Homo sapiens: one gene and its partners. The protein of the gene in region 1 interacts with the protein of each later gene in a pairwise test. Each region holds a gene or a part of one and is shown in the gene's direction. Other genes may lie near its edges. The genes, in order: GOLM2, TMEM201, RNASE12 and B3GNT7.

Region 1 (5,228 bases):
TAATACTCTTGATTCCATTCTTTCATCCATTGGACTTTTTGTTGTTGTCGTTGTTGTTGTTGTTGTTGTTTTTTGAGACGGAGTTTTGTTTTTGTTGCCCAGGCAGGAGTGCAATGGCGTGATCTCAGCTCACTGCAACCTCCGCCCCCCCGGGGTTCAAGCAATTCTCCTGCTTCAGCCTCCTGAGTAGCTGGGATTACAGGCATGCACCACCACGCCTGGCTAATTTTGTATTTTTAGTAGAGAAGGGGTTTCTCAATGTTGGTCAGGCTGGTCTTGAACTACCAACCTCAGGTGATCCGCCCGCCTCAGCCTCCCAAAGTGCTGGGATTACAGGTGTGAGCCACCATGCCCAGCCTCTTTTTTTTTTTTTTTTTTTAAAGAGACAGGGTCTCATTGTGTTGCCCAGGCTGGAGTGCAGTAGCTGTTACACAGGCATGATGCACTATAGCATTGAAATCCTGAGCTCAAGTGATCCTCCTGCTTCAGCCTCTGAGTAGCTGGGACTGCAGGTGTGCACCACCTTGCCCAGCTCTACTGAACTGTCTCTTTCAGTTTGTTTCACTTTTTACCTTCAACAGTATGTGGGTGTCCCCTGTTCTCAGTAAAGGAAAAAAAATCTGTATATTCCTTTCTCCCAACCAACCCATTTGTTTTTTCACTTTCATTGCTAAAGTCAAATTATTGATGGTCTACAAATGTTCCATCTACCTATTTTTTCATAACCATCCTAATCTTAAAATGTCTGCCATCTTTCTTTCCTCCCCTTTTTTGAAACTATTCTCTTGAAGGTCACAAATGGCAGTCTTCCTAGTCAAAACCAAAGAATATTTTTATTCTTACTGTATTTGACCTCCCAGTAGTTTGATCCTGTTGATTGTCTCTAGCTATTTGGAAACTATTTTCTTTCTTGCTTCTGTTATACTGGACTCTCCAGTCTTATCTTCTTCACTATATTCTTTGCTGGATTTATTTTTTCTTTCCAGTCACCTAGTAAGGGACTCTGTTATTGAGCCTTTGCTCTCCCATAAGAGCAGTATTCCCCAAAGTAGTGTTAAACAGAATACCCTTCTTGTAATATTTCTTAGGTGGTGAGGAGAAAAAAATGAAAACCTTTTTTGGAGGGAAATGTTAGTGTATCCTCCTCTTGGAATTCATAATGCCTGCTGGAATATAAAAGCTCTGAGAAATCCATTAATAAAGAAGGCTATTCAATTTTGTTTAACTCAGTCTTGTTTAGTTTATTTGATCACAGGTTACTATTTTCATGGCCTACCTATTATGGCACAGAATAATATAGCAAAGCCCACTAGTTTGGGAAATATTGCCCTGGGTATCTTAACTACTTTTAAGTGTTTGGCTAATATTTTATGCAGCTGGCTCACAAGACTGTATCTCTTATTGAATGTCAGTTCTGTGTGTGTATATGTGTATACATACATATATATATATATATATTTTTTTTTTTTTTTAGACAGAGTCTCGCTCGGTTAAGCAGGCTGGAGTACAGTGGTGTGATCTCGGCTCACTGCAAGCTCCGCCTCCTGGGTTCACGCCATTCTCTGCTTCAGCCTCCTGAGTAGCTGGGACTACAGGCGCCCACCTCCATGCCCGGCTAATTTTTTGTATTTTTAGTAGAGATGGGGTTTCACCATGTTAGCCAAGATGGTCTCGATCTCCTGACCTCGTGATCCACCAGCCTTGGCCTCCCAAAGTGCTGAGATTACAGGCGTGAGCCACCGCACCCGGCTAGTTCTGTATATTTTTAAAAGTTTTTTCTTTTTTTAGTTTTGTAGAGATAGGGTGTTGCTATGTTGCCCAGGCTGCTTTCAAACTCCTGGCTCCAAGTGATCTTGCCTTGGGCTCACAAAGTGCTGGGATTCTAGGTGTGTGCCACAGCACTTGGTGTGCCACTTCTGTATTTTGAGCTGGCTATAACAACTTTCTTGGGCTGCTTGTGAATGTCTGTTCTTGGGGTTAATGAGGACTCTCTGAGCTGCTTAGTAGAAAGGGTAGTCTTGGTCTCTGTATTTTAAACTTAACAGTTTTTCAGGGTTTTTTTTATTGTTATTGTTGTTTGTTTGTTTTGAGACAGGGTCTTGCTCTGTCACCCAGGCTGGAGAGCAGTGGTGCGATCATAGTTTACTACAGCCTCAAACTCCTGGGCTCAAGCGATCCTCCCACCTCGGCCTCCCAAGTAGCTGGGACTATAGGTGCATGCCACCATGATGGTCTAATTTTTTATTTTTTGGTAGAGATGAGGGTCTTATTATCTTGTCCAGGCTGGTCTCCAGTTCCTGGCCTGAAGTGATCCTCCTGCCTTGGCCTTCTAAAGTGCTGGGTGTGAGCCACCATACTTGGCCACTTAACAGTTTTAGATCTGGAAAATTATTGGAAAATTAGATCTGGAAAACTAAACAAGTGATCCTCCTGCCTTGGCCTTCTAAAGTGCCAGGTGTGAGCTACCATACCTGGCCACTTAACAGTTTTAGATCTGGAAAATTATTGCAAAGATAGTACAGGGAGTTTTTATATACCCCACACCCAGTCTTCCCTATTATTAACATCTTAACATAAGTATGATGCATTTGTCACAATTAATGAACCAGTATTGATATCTTATTATGAAAGTCCGTACTTTATTCAGATTTCTTCAGTTTTCGCCTGCTGTCCTTTTTTAATTCCAGGATCTCATCCAGAGTTACGTTACATTTAGACATTATGTCTTCTGAAGCTTCTTTTCAGCCTTTCCTTGTTTTTTAGACCTTTTCTTGTTTTTGATAATCTTGACAATTTTAAGGATTACTGATTAGGTGTTTTATATAGAATGTCCCTCAATTGGGAATTGTCTGAGTCTTTTCTCAGGATTAGACTGGAGTTGTGGGTTTTCGGACAAAGACCACAGAAGTAAAGTACCAATCTCAACACATCATAACATGGGTATGTTTTTCAAAATGATTTATCACTACTTATGTTAACCTCTATCACCTGGCGTGAGATAGTGCTTGTCAGGTTTCTCCACTATAATGTACTCTTAAAAAAAATCTGTTTCCATACTGTACACTTTGGAAGAAAGTATGTTCACCCTCACTTAATGAGTGGGTAGTTATGTTTTTCCTCCTTAAGGACAGAGTATCAACATAAACTATATGGAATTCTTCTGCAAAGGAGATTTGTCTCTTCTCCCTCATTTATTAACTTAATAATTTACTTGTATCGGTATGGACTCATGGATATTTATTTTGTACTTTGGCTTATAATCCAATATTAGTTTATTTTTTTGTTGCTCAAATTGTTCTGGCTCTGGCTGTTGGAGAGCTCCTTCATTAACTCCTGTATCCCCTTCTTACTTTTATAGTGCCAGAAAGTACAGAGAATTTCCACATACCCTACACCCAGTTTCATTGTGACATACCCCTTTCTTACTTTTTGGTACTTTTAGATGCTCTAGGCCTATCTATACGTTTCCTACTCCAGCCCTAGAGTCAACCATTTCTCCAAGGAACCTTGGTTCCTTTTATTGGAGAATGGCATTAGAAACCAAGGTCTGCAGCTGGGCACGGTGGCTCACGCCTGTAGTCCCAACACTTTGGGAGGCTGAGGCTAGTGGATTTCTTGAGGTCAGGAGTTCAAGACCACCCTGACTAACATGGTGAAACCCCATCTCTACTTAAAAATACAAAAATTGGGCCAGACACGGTGGCTCACGCCTGTAATCCCAGCACTTTGGGAGGCCGAGGTGGGCAGATCACAAGGTCAGGAGTTCGAGACCAGCCTGGCTAGCATGGTGAAACTCCGTCTCTACTAAAAATACAAAAAATTAGTCGGGTATGGTGGTGCGCACCTGTAGTCCCAGCTACTTGGGAGGCTGAGGCAGGAGAATTGCTTGAACCCGGCAGGCAGAGGTTGCAGTGAGCTGAGATCACGCCATTGCACTCCAGCCTGGAGGACAGCGAGACTCCATCTCAAAAAAAAAAAAAAAAACACCACCACCACAAAAAAAAACAAAAATTAACCGGGCATGGTGGGGGGCGCCTGTAATCCCAGCTACTTGGGAGGAGTATCGTTTGAACTGGGAAGCAGAGGTTGCAGTGAGCCAAGATTGTGCCACTGCACTCCAGCCTGGGCAACAGAGTAAGACTCTGTCTCACAAAAAAAAAAAAAGAAACCAAGGTCTGCTTGGCAGATATGCTCGTTGCTACTATAAGGTTATCTTTGGAAATCAAGGAATCCTTTCTCCAGAGGAATCAGAAAGGTGATATTTGGTTTCTTTCACATTATTATGCCATTCTGTCACTTCCAGTCTGTTACCTGGGTTACTAAACACATAAATTCCTTTTTTTTTTTTTTTCTGAGATGGAGCCTCACTCTGTCACCCAGGCTGGAGCGCAGTGGCGCAGTCTCAGCTCACTTCAACCTCCACCCGCCGGGCTGAAGTGATTCTCCTGCCTCATCCTCCTGAGTAGCTGAGACTACAGGTGCATGCCACCATGCCTGGCTAATTTTTGATTTTTTAGTAGAGACAGGGTTTCACCATGTTGGCCAGGCTGGTCTTTAACTCCTGACCTCAAGTGATCTGCCCACCTTGGCCTCCCAAAGTGCTGGATTACAGGCATGACCCACCACATCCGGCCTTGAACATGGAAATTCTTTAAGGGAGCTTTAAGTTGCTCCTGTCTTGTCCAAAGAAGTGAGAAACAACCCCCACTTCTCTGAGATTCCCTCAAACTTTCTGATTTTTTAAACTTCCCTCTAAAGGGTTTCAGCCTGGAGGGGTGTATTAGTTTGCTAGGGCTGCCATAACAAAATGCCACAGACTAGGTGGCTTAAACAGCAGAAATTTATTTTCTCACATTTTTGAAGGTTGGAAGTCTAAGACCAAGGTGCCAGCAGGGTTGTTTTTCTCTGAACTTCTCTCCTTGGCTTGCAGATGGCAACCTTCTTGCTGCTTTATTGTGACATGATAGTCCCTCTGTATGCACACATCCTTGGTGTCTTTTCCTCTTCTTAAAAGGATACGAGTCATATTGGATTAGACCCACTGTAACTTAAGCACTTTAAAGACCTTGTCTCCAAATACAGTTACATTCTGAGATCCTGGAGGCTGGGACTTCAACATGTGAATTTGGGGGAAACACAGTTCATCTTAGAACAAGGGAGATCCACCACACATACACACACACACACACACACACACACACACAGACACCCTTTTATTTCCTCTTTTA
Region 2 (5,228 bases), on another chromosome or scaffold:
CTGTTAAGTGCGTCCCACGAGCAGTCCCTTGTGAGGGAGGTGCTTTTGTCCCCAGCTGACAGGTGATCACACATCTCCCTTCATATGCCCCTGGTCAGGAGAAGGGGGTGGAGGGGAGGGCCGGGCAGCAGCAGTAGTGTCAGAAGCGGGAGCCCTGCTTCCCAGGGCCCAGCCTCCCCCTCAGGCCCCTGGCCAGCCCGATGGGTTAGCGACAGAGCTGGCTCTTTGCAGAGCACAGCACCTTTCTGTCTTGTGTCACTGCGTCCTTGCAGCATGCAGAAGCCGGGGGTGCTGTGGTTGCCCCCACTTCACAGATGTGGACACTGAGGCTGAGAGTACAGGAACTTCCTGGGGCTCCGTCCTCCTTTCTCTGAGCAGCGCCTCAGGATGAAAGGCCAGAGGGCCGTGCTCTCTGGTCCTGTGGACGGGGGGCCGTCTGTGCAGGGAGTGGCTGCCCACTCTGGCAGGGGCTCAAGCGGTGTCCTCGAGCTGGAGGTGGCCCCTGGGGGAGAGGTGGAGAGTCGGAGCAGCAAAGCCGGGGCCCCAGGGCTCCCACAGCTGCTGCCTGTCACCCACATTGTTCCTGGATTTCCGGAACTGGGGGGCTTTTTTGGGCAGTGGCGGTCTCTCTGCCCACCCCTCCCCAGTCCCCCAGTGTCCCACAACCAATGAGGTGGGTAGAGGGGGGCCCAGAGCATAGATCCCCCAGTGTCTGGGCTGGGATTATCCCGAGGCCCCACCTGTCACCACACGTGTAGCCAGCGAGGGCCACTGTCCTCTCCACCAGAGAGGGTTGGCCCCAGGCTGGGCAGCTGTCACTTGCTCCCTCCCCTCAGCCTCCTTGGCTCTCACATCCTGGGACTGTCTCTCTCTGGAGCACAGGAGGCCCCTTTCAATCTGGAGGCTCCCTGGGGCGCACCCTTTCTGCAGCCCAGGATCAAGGACCTCGTGGGGGAGGGGTGGTCCTCGAACCTGGTCCCAGTCAGCCCTGGTTTGGCCAGCCCTGGCCCCTGTTGTGCTCCATGTGTGAGCCCCAGGCCACCAGGAGCAGGTGGCCCTGGGTCCCCGTGCGGCCGCACTGGAGCCTAGGGATCTGCTGAGGCTCCAGCTGGCCTCCTCCCCTTGAAGACTGAGAAGCCCAGGTTGGCCGTGGCCTCCCTGTCTGGTCCTGGGTGGATGCAGCCGTACCTAGTCTGCGTTCCTCTCCTTCAGAGCCCTTGTTCCTCCTGCTGTTCTGGGGCCAGCATCTCCAGCTTTGCATCCCCAGATCCCAGATCCCACTCCCAGCACCCTTTCCCTGGTGGCCCTGGGGCAGGGCATGGAGGTCCCTCTCCAGCAGGTGCTGGGGTCTTCCAGGCCAACCCGCTCTTTCCTTGGTCCACAGGATGAAGCCAACGCACACGATGGTCAACTGCTGGTTCTGCAACCAGGATACGCTGGTGCCCTATGGGAACCGCAACTGCTGGGACTGTCCCCACTGCGAGCAGTACAACGGCTTCCAGGAGGTGTGGGTCACAGGCAGGCGGACGGGTGGGCACGCGGGGGTGGGGATCTTGAGATTTGCACCTTGAGACCACCCTGTGTCCCTGCCCTGCCCCGGGGCTCATGGACCCCACACCCTCATACCCTGTCCTCTCCAGGCCCTGAGCATGGTGTTTCGTGTACATTGTCTCACTCGATTCTCACCACTGCCCTGGCGCTGTCTCCTCACTTGAGGAGGAACCCGACGCAGGGAGCCATGGCAGTTTGTCCAAGGTTACACCACTAAAAGTGGCAGATTTGGGGTTCACACCCAGGTCTTTCTGGCTCTGCATCTCATTCTCTGTACTATATCAGGGCTAGCAAACCTTTTCTGCAAAGGGCCAGATAGTATTTTAAGCTTTGGAAGCCATTTGGTCTCTGTCACAACTGCTAACCCTGCTGAGCCACCGTAGGTAATACAAGAGTGAATTAGCCTGGCTGTGTTCCAATAAAACTTGATTGCAGAAACAGGCAGCTCCTCCACGGGTCATAGTGTGCTGTCCCCTGGACTAGACCAGGGTTTGCAGACTGAGTTCCGAGAGGGTAGGGCTCTGAGGACAGATGCTGGCTAGAGGTGTGTGGGTGGGCGGCGGGCTGCAGGCCCTGCTCTGTGCTCAGGCTAGGTGGCTTCACTCGGCATCTGGGCCTTTGGGTTCCATGGAGGTGTCTTGAGAAGAAAAGCAGCTGCTGTTGTGTGCAGAAGAAAAAAAAGAATGGAGATGTTTGAGATCTACCATCACTTGCCTGGAGCGGGGCGGGCCCCCAGGGACATCACCAAGCCTGAGCCAGCTGGGAGGGCCTGCCTGCCTCGAGTCCCACCTCTCTCCCGCAGAACGGCGACTACAACAAGCCGATCCCCGCCCAGTACTTGGAGCACCTGAACCACGTGGTGAGCAGCGCGCCCAGCCTGCGCGACCCTTCGCAGCCGCAGCAGTGGGTGAGCAGCCAAGTCCTGCTGTGCAAGAGGTGCAACCACCACCAGACCACCAAGATCAAGCAGCTGGCCGCCTTCGCTCCCCGCGAGGAGGTGAGGCCGGGTTGGGAGGGCAGGGGTCCTGGCTGGGGCCAGGGATGCTTAGAGCAGCCGGGGGACAGGCACGTGCAGGGTGCTGACTCTGGTCCTCTGGCCCCTGCTCTGCTAGACAGCGGCTTTTCTGTTCTGAGTGCCCAAAGGGGCCCCCTCATCCTTGCCACTGCCAGCACATTCCAGGATGTGTTAGTTCTTCTGACCCCGTTGGAGCTGAGCTGCTTCTCCCCATGTCTTACAGTCACTGCTATCGGGGTTCCAAGCCTAGGAACACCGTGGAAACCCCAGCACCTGCCAGTCCAGAGGAATTTGTCCCTGGGCAGAGGGAGGAAGGGACCTTGGGTTCCAGGTGGGGCCCTGTTGGACCCACTCTGTCCTGTTTCTCTGAATCAGCCTTGCCTGCTGGTGGCCCCGGCAGTCTGCTGTGGGGTTGGTGGAGGATGCCACTGGCTTCTGGGAGGAGGAGGAAGCTAGACATTGCTGAGAGGCTTGGCATTAAGGAGCTGGGCTGAGCTGGGAGCCTCACCTTGCCTGTGCCCTCCATGGAGTCCAAGAGCCTTGCTTACTGGCTGCTCCTTCCTGCCCTCGGCCAGCCCAGGGAGTCCTGTCACCTCAAGAGGCAGGTCCCAGCTGGGGCCCAGAGACACTGGCTTTCCTGGGGTCCAGCCTGGGAGGGAGGGAGAACAGAGGTGAACTCAGGCCAAGGCAGGGATGGGGAACCTGCGAGAAGGGGAAGGCAGGGGTGACTTGGCAGCCAGGCAGCTTTTCGGCATGCTTGGTCGCAGCAAGGGATCACACTCCTGACCCTCCTGGCCTTGCAGGCCAAAACGTTTGCTTCCTCAGAAACAGGGAGGGAGAGTTGCAGTGCTGCACGTCTAAGGGCTGAGAAGGAGGGGACTTGTCTTCTGGGCTATTTCAGAAGCTGAAAGAAACCTTCACCTGCCACAAAGACAGGCCTGGCCAGGGGCTCTCTAGCATTCAAGCGGAAGGGCAAGCGCCACAGTCGGGGTTGTCCATCTGCCCCACTCCAGGCAGTGTCAGCCCGCAGCCACCTTCCCCCATGTTCACCCACCTTCTTGGAGCTCTGCATCTGGGGAGCAGACCCTGAGCTCCTGGCCTGCGGGTGCGTCCCTGGAGCAACAGAACCTTGTTAGTGTCCCCATCACTTGTGGGCCCTGCCCTGGATTGGCTCTAACTCCCGGTAGTCCACATGGCTCTACACAGTGGGCATTTGTCCTGTTGGGCAGAGGGGAAGCAGGTTCAAAGTGGGGTTGACTTGCCCCCGGTCATCCCCTAGTAAGTGGCAGGTCAGGATCTGATTCCACGTCTGACCTGTAAGATGGAGGCAGCTCATCCACCCCTGCAGATGCCGAGCCTGTTCCCCCAACCCCACAGGGCAGGTATGACGAGGAGGTCGAGGTGTACCGGCATCACCTGGAGCAGATGTACAAGCTGTGCCGGCCGTGCCAAGCGGCTGTGGAGTACTACATCAAGCACCAGAACCGCCAGCTGCGCGCCCTGTTGCTCAGCCACCAGTTCAAGCGCCGGGAGGCCGACCAGACCCACGCACAGGTGAGAGGCGGCATCCACAGGGCGGGGGTGGGGGTGTTGAGTTTGTTCAGGAAACCCTCCCAGGAGGCTGGGCACTAGTGACCAGAGGGTAGCTCTTCAGAGCTGAGCCCCTTTATTTTTATTTTATTTTATTTTATTTTTGAGATAAAGTTTTGCTGGGATTACAGGCACACGCCACCACGCCTGGCTAATTTTGTATTTTTGGTAGAAACGGGGTTTCTCCGTGTTGTTCAGGCTGGTCTCGAACTCCCGATCTCTGGTGATCCGCCTGCCTTGGCCTCCCAAAGTTCTGGGATTACAGATGTGAGCCACTGCACCCGTCCTTTTTTTTTTTTAAACAGAGTCTTGCTCTGTCACCCAGGCTGGAGTGCAGTGGCACGATCTCGGCTCACTATAACCTTGCCTCCCAGGTTCAAGCGATTCTCCCGTCTCAGCCTCCCGAGTAGCTGGGATTACAGGCACCCGCCATCATGCCCAGTTAATTTTTATATTTTTGTAGAGGTGGGGTTTCACCATGTTGGCCAGACTTGTCTTGAACTCCTGACCTCAGGTGATCCTCCCACTTTGGCCTCCCAAAGTGCTGGGATTACAGGCGTGAGCCACCATGCCTAGCCTTTTATTTATTTTTAAATTTTATTTTTTGAGACAGTTTCACACTGTCGCCCAGGCTGGAGTGAAGTGGCGCGATCTCGGCTCACTGCAATCTCTTCCTCCCGGGTTCAAGCAATTTTCCTGCCTCAGCCTCCTGAGTAGCTGGGATTACAGGCACGCATCACCACAGCCGACTAATATTTATATTTTAGTAGAGACGAGGTTTCACCCTGTTGCTCAGGCTGGTCTTGAACTCTTGAACTCCTGACATCAAATGATCCACCCGCCTTGGCCTCCCAAAGTGCTGGGATTACAGGCCTGAGCCACCGCACCCGGCCTCCAAATAACTGTTTCCATCATTTTGTGAAGTTCTCACCAAAAATTCCTATTGTGAGGTTTTTTTGTTTGTTTTGTTTTGTTTTTTGAGACGGAGTCTCGCTCTGTCGCCCAGACTGGAGTGCAGTGGCGTGATCTCGGCTCACTGCAAGCTCCGCCTCCCGGGTTCACGCAATTCTCC
Region 3 (4,876 bases), on another chromosome or scaffold:
CTTAATTGATCTGCCGGCCTCTGCCTCCCAAAGTACTGGGATTACAGGCATTAGCTACTGCGCCCATTCTGAATTAGTTTTAATTTGATGCAGAAGAAATACTGTGGCATTTTGTTAGATTCTACACCCAGGAGTGGGATTAAAAGGTCTCAGGTCAAACCCTTAATCTTACCAAACGTTTCCAGATTCCTTTCTAGTATTGCCACATCTATTTTTATGCCCAGCAATGTTTTTACCAGCAGTTGATATGATCTGTTTTTCCAATTCTTGATAATCATTTTTGATAATCTGATGGTTATAAACTATTTCTTTGTTATTTCAAGCTTTCATTTCTTTAATTACTAATGAAGTGGAGCATTGCTCATTACCCATTTTGGCTTTATCTTCTGAAATTGGCTTTTCCTTGACTATTTTTTTTTTCCCCTGGGGTTTCCTGTCTTTTTAGGGCTGACATGAAGGAGTTTCTTATATGTAGATGCTAATCTACATATAAATCTAAAACCACAAATGTGGTTTTAGGCATTACAAATATTTTCTTCCAGGCTGCCACACTAGTTAACATTTGGACTCAGTCTCAACTCCTTTTGCAGTGTGATACCCTAGGGATAGGTTTAGTTGCCTCCTTTGGGGAAAATCTTTGTAACGGGGATTACTTCTCTGCCTGTACACTTAGTAAATTATCTGTACTTCAGCTACTTGGAAGTTCTGGCAGGAAATAATGAACATGTTACAGTACATAGATATAATTCTCTGTATACATTGGAAATGTTTCTGCAAGATGTACAAAATCAAATTTTGTTAATTGAAAATCATGTCAAAAATTAAGCATGCACTTATATCTTTGTGGCATTGGGTAACACATATCCAAAACAGGATAGTCTGAATTCTGAAAGGGCACCCAGAATGGACATTTCTGGAAGTAAATATATTCTCCTGGTTGCTCATTTTCACAATTTGAAATTTTGCTTTCGTTTTTGTATAGAAAGAAAAGCATTCTTTGAAGGCTTCTCCAGGATTCTGTTTTTCCTAGATAATTTTTTACGCTGCGATTATTTTCTTCCTGCCAATTAGAAAGACACAGATATGCACAGAGGAGATTTTGTACCTGTCGCTCCAAAAGAGAAATGACTTCAGGGCATGAAGTAGTAAAACTAAGTCCATTTGCCCGTTCCTATATCAACTAACTGGGAGATGATAGCAACAAAAATAATTCTCTGGTCTCAATACTTTGAACCACTGTGTTTTAGCTAAGCCTTTATCCACTAATCTCCCATGTGGGTTTCCCATGTATACCATGGTTCAGTGGTTCCCCTTATAACTTTTGCTATATATTAGAATCACGTGGGGATCCTTTAAGAATCCCCAACCCAGATCGCACACAATATCAGTTAAAGCAGAATGTATCAAGGTGGAAGCCAATACTTTTTTAAATCTCCCGTTGATTCCAACGTTCAGCAGTTTGGGAACTGTCTCCATACTCCTCAGAAGCCCAGGGCTTTATCAAGATTAACGTTATTACAAGGGAATTGTTTTTGTCCTGTGCTGGACGCCGGGTGGAAATGAAACTCGCTAAAACTGGAATTCGAGTGTTTGGCACTGAAAGGATGGGACTCTTGCTTTCCTTCTCACTTCCCATCTCCACCTTAACCTTTTCTACAACTCATTTATTTGTCAATGAAATGAAAAATTTCATGTATTTGTCATAAGGACTGATTGAAAATTTAGAAAGGAGACAGTACTGTGGCTGGCACACATTGGCCTTCACTAAATGTTCTGAAAAGTCCTCACTTGTTTAATGAGGACACATTCAGGACCTGCCTTACCCGACTGTCCTGCTGGAGGTAACTTCTCTTCCTCCCCAGCGGTGCCCAAGCACACCCTGTGCGGGTCCCTCCTTTCTGCTCTTTCTACTTTGGCCCTCCCCACATTCAACAACAGGCTCTCTATCAGTTATTGTCAGGGAACAGCAAGACACAAGCGATTTTGTCAAATTCATGATCAAAAGGCTATGTTACCTGTGACAGTGACCAGAAAAATGACAGGTGAGAGGAGCTAGCACAGAGCCAAGCAGGATTGACAGAGGGAGGGACTTGGAAGGAATTGGGAAGAATAGATGAGTAGAAGGTACTAAAATCATGTGCAATTGGGTGGATTTAAGGTTGAGAAAATTACGGGAAAGAAGGTTATTCAGCAATATGAATAACCTTGACCACTTTCTATATGTCTAGCTCTGTGTTGAGCACTTCGAAGGATTTGAGAAATAGGAGATGTGGTATCTGCTGTCAAAGAACTTGTAGAACAAAACAAACACAACAGGAATAATTTAGAGAACAGCTCAGTACCAAACTCTGAGAGCTGGCATGTTCAGAAAAGGCTTTCTTGGGGAACTATGCCTCCAGCTGGATCTTGCAAGGTCAGTGTGATTTTAATTAGTGGAGAGAAGGAAATAAAATATTCCAAGGATGGGGGAGCAGCCAGGGGTTGGAGCAGGAGGAATCTGACTGTCCTTTGCTACTTTCTATCTTCCCTTACTCAACAGCAGTCAAAGCCAAAGATGCGAAGTCACTCTTACCTCTGATGATAATAATGGTGATAATTTTCTTGGTGCTTCTGTTCTGGGAAAATGAGGTGAATGATGAAGCAGTGATGTCAACTTTAGAACACTTGCATGTGGACTACCCTCAGAATGACGTTCCCGTTCCTGCAAGGTACTGCAACCACATGATCATACAAAGAGTTATCAGGGAACCTGACCACACTTGTAAAAAGGAGCATGTCTTCATCCATGAGAGGCCTCGAAAAATCAATGGTATTTGCATTTCTCCCAAGAAGGTTGCTTGCCAAAACCTTTCGGCCATTTTCTGCTTTCAGAGTGAGACAAAGTTCAAAATGACAGTCTGTCAGCTCATTGAAGGCACAAGATACCCTGCCTGCAGGTACCACTATTCCCCCACAGAGGGGTTTGTTCTTGTCACTTGTGATGACTTGAGGCCAGATAGTTTCCTTGGCTATGTTAAATAACTCAAGATCAGCTCCCGAGTCTGAGATCTCTTCTCTCAATGGCATTGGAGCTGGCTGTGCCTGAGGCAGACCTGGACCGTGGACATGGGGCAATGCCTTGAGCGGAAGGGGAAGCCACTGGTAATTAATTTATCCTTCCTGTATTGCTGGGTTGGGATTGTTTTATTCTGCTTCAATAAAATAATCTTTACTGAATTAAACCATAAATTCTACATGTGTTTCCATTTTTTGTCCCTTATCTCTAGGTCCTTTGATGAGAAACAGGACTGAGATTAAGATAAAGGGAATGAGCCACTCACTTGAGGTGCAAAACTTAAGAGGGCACCAGAAGACCAAAAACCTAGTAACCTAGATGAATATATTTGATTTCAGTGTTTCCTTTTTCTTTTTTTGAGACGGAGTTTTGCTCTTGTTATCCAGGCTGGGGTGCAATGGCACGATCTCGGCTCACTGCAACCTCTGCTTCCCGGGTTCAAGTGATTCTCCTTCCTCAGCCTCCCAAGTAGCTGGGATTACAGGCATGTGCCACCGCGCCCGGCTGATTTTTGTATTTTTAGTAGAGATGAGGTTTCTCCATGTTGGTCAGGCTGGTCTCAAACTCCTGACCTCAGGTGATCTGCCCACCTCAGCCTCTCAAAGTGCTGGGATAACAGGCGTGAGCCACTGTACCTGGCCTTGATTTCAGTATTTTAAAACAATCAAAATTAATGCAAAAATCTTGGATGCTCGCCGGGCGCGGTGGCTCACGCCTGTAATCCCACCACTTTGGGAGGCCGAGGCGGGTGGATCACGAGGCCAGGAGATCGAGACCATCCTGGCTAACACGGTGAAACCCTGTCTCTACTAAAAATACAAAAAATTAGCCGGGCGTGGTGGCGGGCGCCTATAGTCCCAGCTACTCCGGAGGCTGAGGCAAGAGAATGGCGTGAACCCAGGAGGCGGAGTTGCAGTGAGCCGAGATCGCGCCACTGCACTCCAGCCGGGGCGGCAGAGTGAGACTCCGTCTCAAAAAAAAAAAAAAAGAAATCTTGGATGCTCAAAATATCTATCACAAAATTTTGAAGATCCAATCTGACAAGGCTAGGATCAGGGTAAGATGAGTTATGTGAGAAACGTAGTGCAGGGCCAGATCCTGGTATTTAAAATTTTAACATTTGTTCATCAGGGATTATTTTGCATTAAATTTATTTTCTGGCCAGGCGTGGTGGCTCATGCCTGTAATCCCAGCACTTTGGGAGGCTGAGGCAGGTGGAACACTTGAGGTCAGGAGTTTGAGATCAGCCTGGCCAACATGGTGAAACCTCCTCTCCACTAAAAATACAAAAGTTAGTTGGGTGTGGTGGTGCACGCCTGTAATCCCAGCTGCTTGGGAAGCTGACACAGGAGGAGCGCTTGAACCTGGGAGGTGGAGGTTGCAGTGAGCCGAGATCATGCCATTGCACTCCAGCCTGGGCAACAGAGCAAGACTCTGTCTCAAAAATAAATAAATAAATATTTTCTAAAATTGTTGCATTAAAATATTATTTATCTTGATTATTGAGTTTTGTGGCACTCTCTTAAATTTTGGTCTTAGAGTGAGTGTCTCATTAACCTCAGCCTAATCCTAGCTCTGCTTCTAGCTGTAGAAGCAACAGAGGTCACCTCTTAGGGTCTTTTTTAAAGATAGCATATACAACTCAGGCAGCATCTGTTCCTGTTCAGCAGCTCCCTTTGTGTCTTGAAATAAAGAAAGGAGCCTGACTGGTCTGAAACCATTTCCCTTAAAGACTTTAGAGAGACACAGATAAGGATTTCCCAGGGAGGGATTGAGACTTTCAGAGCTCAGTGACCTCCTCTTTGTGTCTCCAGAAGGAAC
Region 4 (5,794 bases), on another chromosome or scaffold:
CAGCAGGGCACCTGTGTGGAGCCAGGGAAGCCAGGGCCACACTTGCAGGGTGAAGTGGGGAACTCGGAAGGCTGGGCAGTGGAGCAAAATGCTTGGTGCCCTGCGGGAACCGGTGGCCAAGGCTACACTGGGATGAAGGGAGCCGTGGAGCTGCAGAATCTGCGGGTGGCCCTCAGTGGCAGGCAGCCAGGCCAACAGGGGCTTTGGGCTGCAGGTCAGCCCCTCCCCTGCTCTGGAACTTTTGGAGGGCCATTACAAAGGACATCAGCCCCAAGATACTCCTCTGAAATTCTGCCTGAAAGGCCCTTCACATTCCCTAATTGGCACTTACAACATTCCAGAACATTCTATGGTACCTTAAGTTTCTCCTCCCCCTCCAAAGGGCCCTTGAACCTTAAGGATAGGGCAGAAGGGGCTCCTCACCCTGGCCTCGAGGGCTTAAGATCCAGCTGAGGACTCCTAGCCTCCCTGTGTGCTGGGCAGGAAAGTAGCTCCATGTCACTGCTGTCCCTGGGAAAGGAAAAAAGGTTGAGGAAGGGCTCAGAGCCAGCCTTCAGACCAGGCAGGAAGGGTTCAGAGCCAGCCTTCAGGCCATGCAGGCCTCCTGGATGTGCTTACTAACTCTGGGCTCGCTGTTCTCTGAGCTGGCTGGGAGTTCCCCTCTGCACCCCCGTTTCCTCCCCTGTAAGGTGGGAATAATAGCGTATGTCTCTAGGATTAAGTGAGCCAGTCATGCATGGGCCGAGAACCAGGTTTGGCATATTGTAGCTGCTCAGTGGACGTTAGCTGTTATGATTGGACCACAACGTGCTTCCGTTTCAATTCTGTGGGCCTTTTGGAGGTCCTGCTGGATGCTAAGCACCGAAACCTCAACCCGGAACAAGACCAGAACAACCTGAGCAACAACAGGACCAGCGATGGCTCTCCCTGCTGGAGGATTCTGGAAGTCACCTGGCTGGACCAAGCCCTCTCCGTGTTCTCTGTCAGCCCACTCCCCAGAGCCGCTAGGCCTGATGTGCACAAGCAGACTAATAAAGGCTTGAGGACAAAAAGGGTTTTGAGTGATAAGTGAAAAAAGAAAGGAGATAGGGCTGGGCCAACAGGCCTTCCCTTGGTGGTGGGGAGCCCTCAGAGGTGGGAGGAACCCCAGAGGTGAAGAGAGGGACATGGTGGGGGCACAAAAAAAGCTTCCAGAGCCACAGGCCTGGGCGAGTCCTGACATGGAGCCCAGTCTCATACGGCCTCTTTCCCTAGTGGCTGGCTTTGCTCCTGGCCCTAGGTAGCCCAACAGCTGGGCAAGGGGTCCGTCTGGTCAGGGGAAAGGTGCAGGGGCAGAAGGTAGCAGAGGGAGAAAAGGACACCCTGTCTGCCTCTGGCCCCAAAGACAAGTCCGAATGGGGCCAGAGGGAAATGGCTGGGCCTTGGGGTGCCCCAGGGTCTTGGAGGGGACCGGGTGTTCAGGTTTCGCACAAGTACAGGAGGGACCGGCGACCGCCCTCCCCCCGCCCCGGGAGGCTCCGCCAGGGACAGGCGTCCCCGGGATTGGAGGTGACCCCCGTGGGTTCCGAAGCCCCGCCTCGGCCATGCACTGTCTACTAGGCGCGCTTGGGGAGCCTAGGGGCCGTCTCGGAGAAATGGGGTGGTCCCCGCCAGGCGGCGGCGGGGCGGGCCCTGGGCGCCGAAGGGGTTAAGGCACCTGGGCCACCGCCCCTGCCGGCCCCTCCTCCCGCGGCCGGGAAGAGGAAAGTCGCGGCGGGGGCGCGGCCCGGTCTCCGTCCCCACCCGCCCGCCGTCCCGCCGGCCCGAGCCGTGGCGCCCAGAGCTGCGAGCCGCTCGCCCCTCCGCCGCTCCGGCCCGGGCCGCCATGTCGCTGTGGTGAGTGGGGCTGGGGGCCGTCGGGGGCCTGGGCGGGGGCGTGGGCCCGGGGCTCCCCCTCCTCCGTGGCCACAGACGGGCGCCGGGACTCCCGGGATAGGAGATGCCCCCGCGCGCGCCGCGCCGGCCTCAGTTTCCCGGGGGCGGATGGGCGGGCGGGCGCGGCGGCGGCGGCGGGAGATGTTCGCGGTACGCGGCCCCGGACCCGTGGGGGACGTCGAGGGGTCTCGGGGCGCCGCGCTCAGCTCCCCGGCCCCGCGGCCCTGGACACCGCTCCAGGACCCTGGCGGCTGGGACCCCAGGTCTTGCCGGCAGCTGGGTCCCCTCTCCCTTCCAGACCCCTGAGGGCCCCCTGCGTCCGGGCCACTCTCCTCCTCTCGGGGCTTCCTTCCGCGGGACCTCGGACCGCCGCCCGCCCGGCCCCTCTCCGCCCCTCCCGGGCTTTCCCTACGAATGGAGCGGACCCGGCAGGTGGAGCGCCCGCAGCCCAGGGCCTCGCCGCCTTCCCGGTGCACCCCCCGACCTCCCCCGTCCCGGCCTCGGTGGGCGGCTTCCCTGGAACCCCTAGGGCTGGCAGGGCCGGATCCGGAGCCCTCCGTTTCCTCCCCGGAGAGCTGGACCTTGGGTCACACCCCCCAGCCTGCACCTAAGGTGCCCCTGTCTTCCTCCAACCACATGCCCCAGCAACCTGGGGACCCTATGGGGAAAATGTCGCTCTATGGGGCTCAGCCTGCATTCACCCTGGGGCCTGGACCTGCAACCGGACCAGCCCTCAGGGCAACCCAGGCGTCTCCACGGGCTGCCTGTCTCTCCTGGCACCCTGCTCCTCCCCCTTGGAGGTCAGCGCCATCTCTCTGCTAGGCTGGCCCTGGAAGGCCACTCTGCTGTCCCCAGAGCTCTCAGCCCCCAGGTCTCCACTGGGGAGGGTGGGGCAGGTGTCCTGGCAGCCCCCGGAGGGTGAGATGAAGAGAGGAGGTCCTTCAGGACAGGGGCTCAGGCCCCAGGGCTTGGGACGACCAGCACTCCTGGCAGAGAGCTCTAATTTCTGCTTCCGAAATGGGTGTGGACCGGGGTTGGGGTGGGGGGGTCTCTGGGCAAGAAGGGTCCCTCAAGGGCTGGAGCTGCAAATGTGCCCCCTCCCAGGGAGTAGAGCTGTAGCCTCATGTCTTCTAATGGGGTGTTATGAGCTGGGGATGTTAAGGTAGGGGTGAGGGGCAGTGCCATGCTAGAGGTGCTCACTGCATCCTTGGGCCTCCATCAACCATGAGGGCTGCTCTTTGTTGGGTGAGACAGACTGGAGAAGGGGGAGGAGGGCCAGTCTTCCTCAGGTCCCAAGCTCGAGCCACTCTCCAATGTGCCCCACATGTGATGGAGCTCCCGGGCGGCACAGAGGATCAGAGGGTGCCCTCTCAATGACTCTGGCTCTGAGTCACCTAATGATACCGATACCTACTGCTGTGGGTAGGTACACCGCAGGGAAATGAAAGGCATTGGGGTTCCAGGCGTGGGGAACAGGGCAGAGGTTTCCACCTGAGGCCCTCCTGTTAAGGTGACAGCATTCCCCTAACTGTGCACCCGCTGCCTGGTACTTTATATAGCACTCCAATCCTGTGTTTTAGCCCCATTTGGGGGAAGAAGAAATCGTGGCTCAGAGTGGTTGTAAACCACTCATTCAGCTTGTAAGCGTCAGGGCCTGATTCCACAGTGCTCCTTGAGGAGAGGGCAGGGTGGGAGAAAGAAAGGGCAGGGTGGGAGAGGAAGCGGGACCCTACCCTGACAGCTTAGGGACTCCGGGACTGAGCCTGTGCCCAGGTCCACTTGCCCGTCTGGGACCACCCAGCCTCCCAAGGGGGGCGCCAGGAGAGCCCTGGGCTCATCTTTTCTCTCTCCTCTGTACTGTCCGCTCTCCCCCACAGGAAGAAAACCGTCTACCGGAGTCTGTGCCTGGCCCTGGCCCTGCTCGTGGCCGTGACGGTGTTCCAACGCAGTCTCACCCCTGGTCAGTTTCTGCAGGAGCCTCCGCCACCCACCCTGGAGCCACAGAAGGCCCAGAAGCCAAATGGACAGCTGGTGAACCCCAACAACTTCTGGAAGAACCCGAAAGATGTGGCTGCGCCCACGCCCATGGCCTCTCAGGGGCCCCAGGCCTGGGACGTGACCACCACTAACTGCTCAGCCAATATCAACTTGACCCACCAGCCCTGGTTCCAGGTCCTGGAGCCGCAGTTCCGGCAGTTTCTCTTCTACCGCCACTGCCGCTACTTCCCCATGCTGCTGAACCACCCGGAGAAGTGCAGGGGCGATGTCTACCTGCTGGTGGTTGTCAAGTCGGTCATCACGCAGCACGACCGCCGCGAGGCCATCCGCCAGACCTGGGGCCGCGAGCGGCAGTCCGCGGGTGGGGGCCGAGGCGCCGTGCGCACCCTCTTCCTGCTGGGCACGGCCTCCAAGCAGGAGGAGCGCACGCACTACCAGCAGCTGCTGGCCTACGAAGACCGCCTCTACGGCGACATCCTGCAGTGGGGCTTTCTCGACACCTTCTTCAACCTGACCCTCAAGGAGATCCACTTCCTCAAGTGGCTGGACATCTACTGCCCCCACGTCCCCTTCATTTTCAAAGGCGACGATGACGTCTTCGTCAACCCCACCAACCTGCTAGAATTTCTGGCTGACCGGCAGCCACAGGAAAACCTGTTCGTGGGCGATGTCCTGCAGCACGCTCGGCCCATTCGCAGGAAAGACAACAAATACTACATCCCGGGGGCCCTGTACGGCAAGGCCAGCTATCCGCCGTATGCAGGCGGCGGTGGCTTCCTCATGGCCGGCAGCCTGGCCCGGCGCCTGCACCATGCCTGCGACACCCTGGAGCTCTACCCGATCGACGACGTCTTTCTGGGCATGTGCCTGGAGGTGCTGGGCGTGCAGCCCACGGCCCACGAGGGCTTCAAGACTTTCGGCATCTCCCGGAACCGCAACAGCCGCATGAACAAGGAGCCGTGCTTTTTCCGCGCCATGCTCGTGGTGCACAAGCTGCTGCCCCCTGAGCTGCTCGCCATGTGGGGGCTGGTGCACAGCAATCTCACCTGCTCCCGCAAGCTCCAGGTGCTCTGACCCCAGCCGGGCTACTAGGACAGGCCAGGGCACTTGCTCCTGAGCCCCCATGGTATTGGGGCTGGAGCCACAGTGCCCAGGCCTAGCCTTTGGTCCCCAAGGGGAGGTGGAGGGTTGAGGCCTACGTGCCACTGGGTGTGGTGGGGTGCAGGTAGCCAGAAAGGGACCTCCCTGTGTGGATAATTCTAGGAAACTGAGGCCCAGGAACGGTTGGAGCTGCCCAGTCTGGAGGCCCTCTCTGAGGAGCGAGGCGCCAGGCCCTGGCAGCCCTCCTGACCTGGGTCCGTTGCTGGCCCCCTCAGATGTGGTGGGAGGTCCTGGTGACCTCTGGAGGAACGCTGTGCTCAGGTACCTGGGCTAGGCCTGGCCTGATGGGTCTGTGGCCGCCCCTCGTCTTCACAGGGAAGAGTCTTCTGTGAAATGCCTCAGTCTCCCCAGAGGCCGGGCGGCCCTGGCAGGAGAAACTCAACCCTGTGCGGGCTCACAGGCACCCCCCAGTCCACACCCTGGTCTCCTGGGAGAGAGGGCCCAGCCGGCTCTCCGCAGCCCCAGGCCTGCCTGGAGACGGGCCGCCTCTGCCACAGGGCCTCCACTCCTGGCTGTGTCCTGTAAGGTCTGGAAGGGCGACCGCTCTGACTACCTCAGCGCCCCTCAGAATCTCCCTGGGGCTGCAGCCCTACCCCACCCCGACACAGGGCAGAAGAGCAGCGCTCCTGGCCCCCCGAAGTCCCAGAGCTGCTGACCCCCACCCCAGGCAAGTCTCTCCCGCAGCCCCCACACCCCCAGGCCTGGCTCCCTGGCTGGAAAG

Evidence for each region.
Region 2: the proteins of GOLM2 (region 1) and TMEM201 interact in a two-hybrid assay, tested with the Homo sapiens proteins (one large-scale study listed by BioGRID).
Region 3: the proteins of GOLM2 (region 1) and RNASE12 interact in a two-hybrid assay, tested with the Homo sapiens proteins (one large-scale study listed by BioGRID).
Region 4: the proteins of GOLM2 (region 1) and B3GNT7 interact in a two-hybrid assay, tested with the Homo sapiens proteins (one large-scale study listed by BioGRID).

What each region holds. Positions count from the first base shown.
Region 1 is NC_000015.10:44,290,745-44,295,972, forward strand, and holds part of GOLM2 (protein GOLM2), read left to right. Parts: intron 1-5,228.
Region 2 is NC_000001.11:9,594,506-9,599,733, forward strand, and holds part of TMEM201 (transmembrane protein 201), read left to right. Parts: intron 1-1,384; coding exon 1,385-1,505; intron 1,506-2,353; coding exon 2,354-2,548; intron 2,549-3,943; coding exon 3,944-4,120; intron 4,121-5,228. UniProt on the Homo sapiens protein: Critical regulator of angiogenesis and endothelial cell (EC) migration. Promotes the migration of endothelial cells, which is essential for angiogenesis.
Region 3 is NC_000014.9:20,588,425-20,593,300, reverse strand, and holds RNASE12 (probable inactive ribonuclease-like protein 12 precursor), read left to right. Parts: upstream 1-1,924; 5' UTR 1,925-2,042; intron 2,043-2,539; 5' UTR 2,540-2,577; coding exon 2,578-3,021; 3' UTR 3,022-3,228; downstream 3,229-4,876. UniProt on the Homo sapiens protein: Does not exhibit any ribonuclease activity.
Region 4 is NC_000002.12:231,393,940-231,399,733, forward strand, and holds the start of B3GNT7 (UDP-GlcNAc:betaGal beta-1,3-N-acetylglucosaminyltransferase 7), read left to right. Parts: upstream 1-1,770; 5' UTR 1,771-1,864; coding exon 1,865-1,875; intron 1,876-3,791; coding exon 3,792-4,986; 3' UTR 4,987-5,794.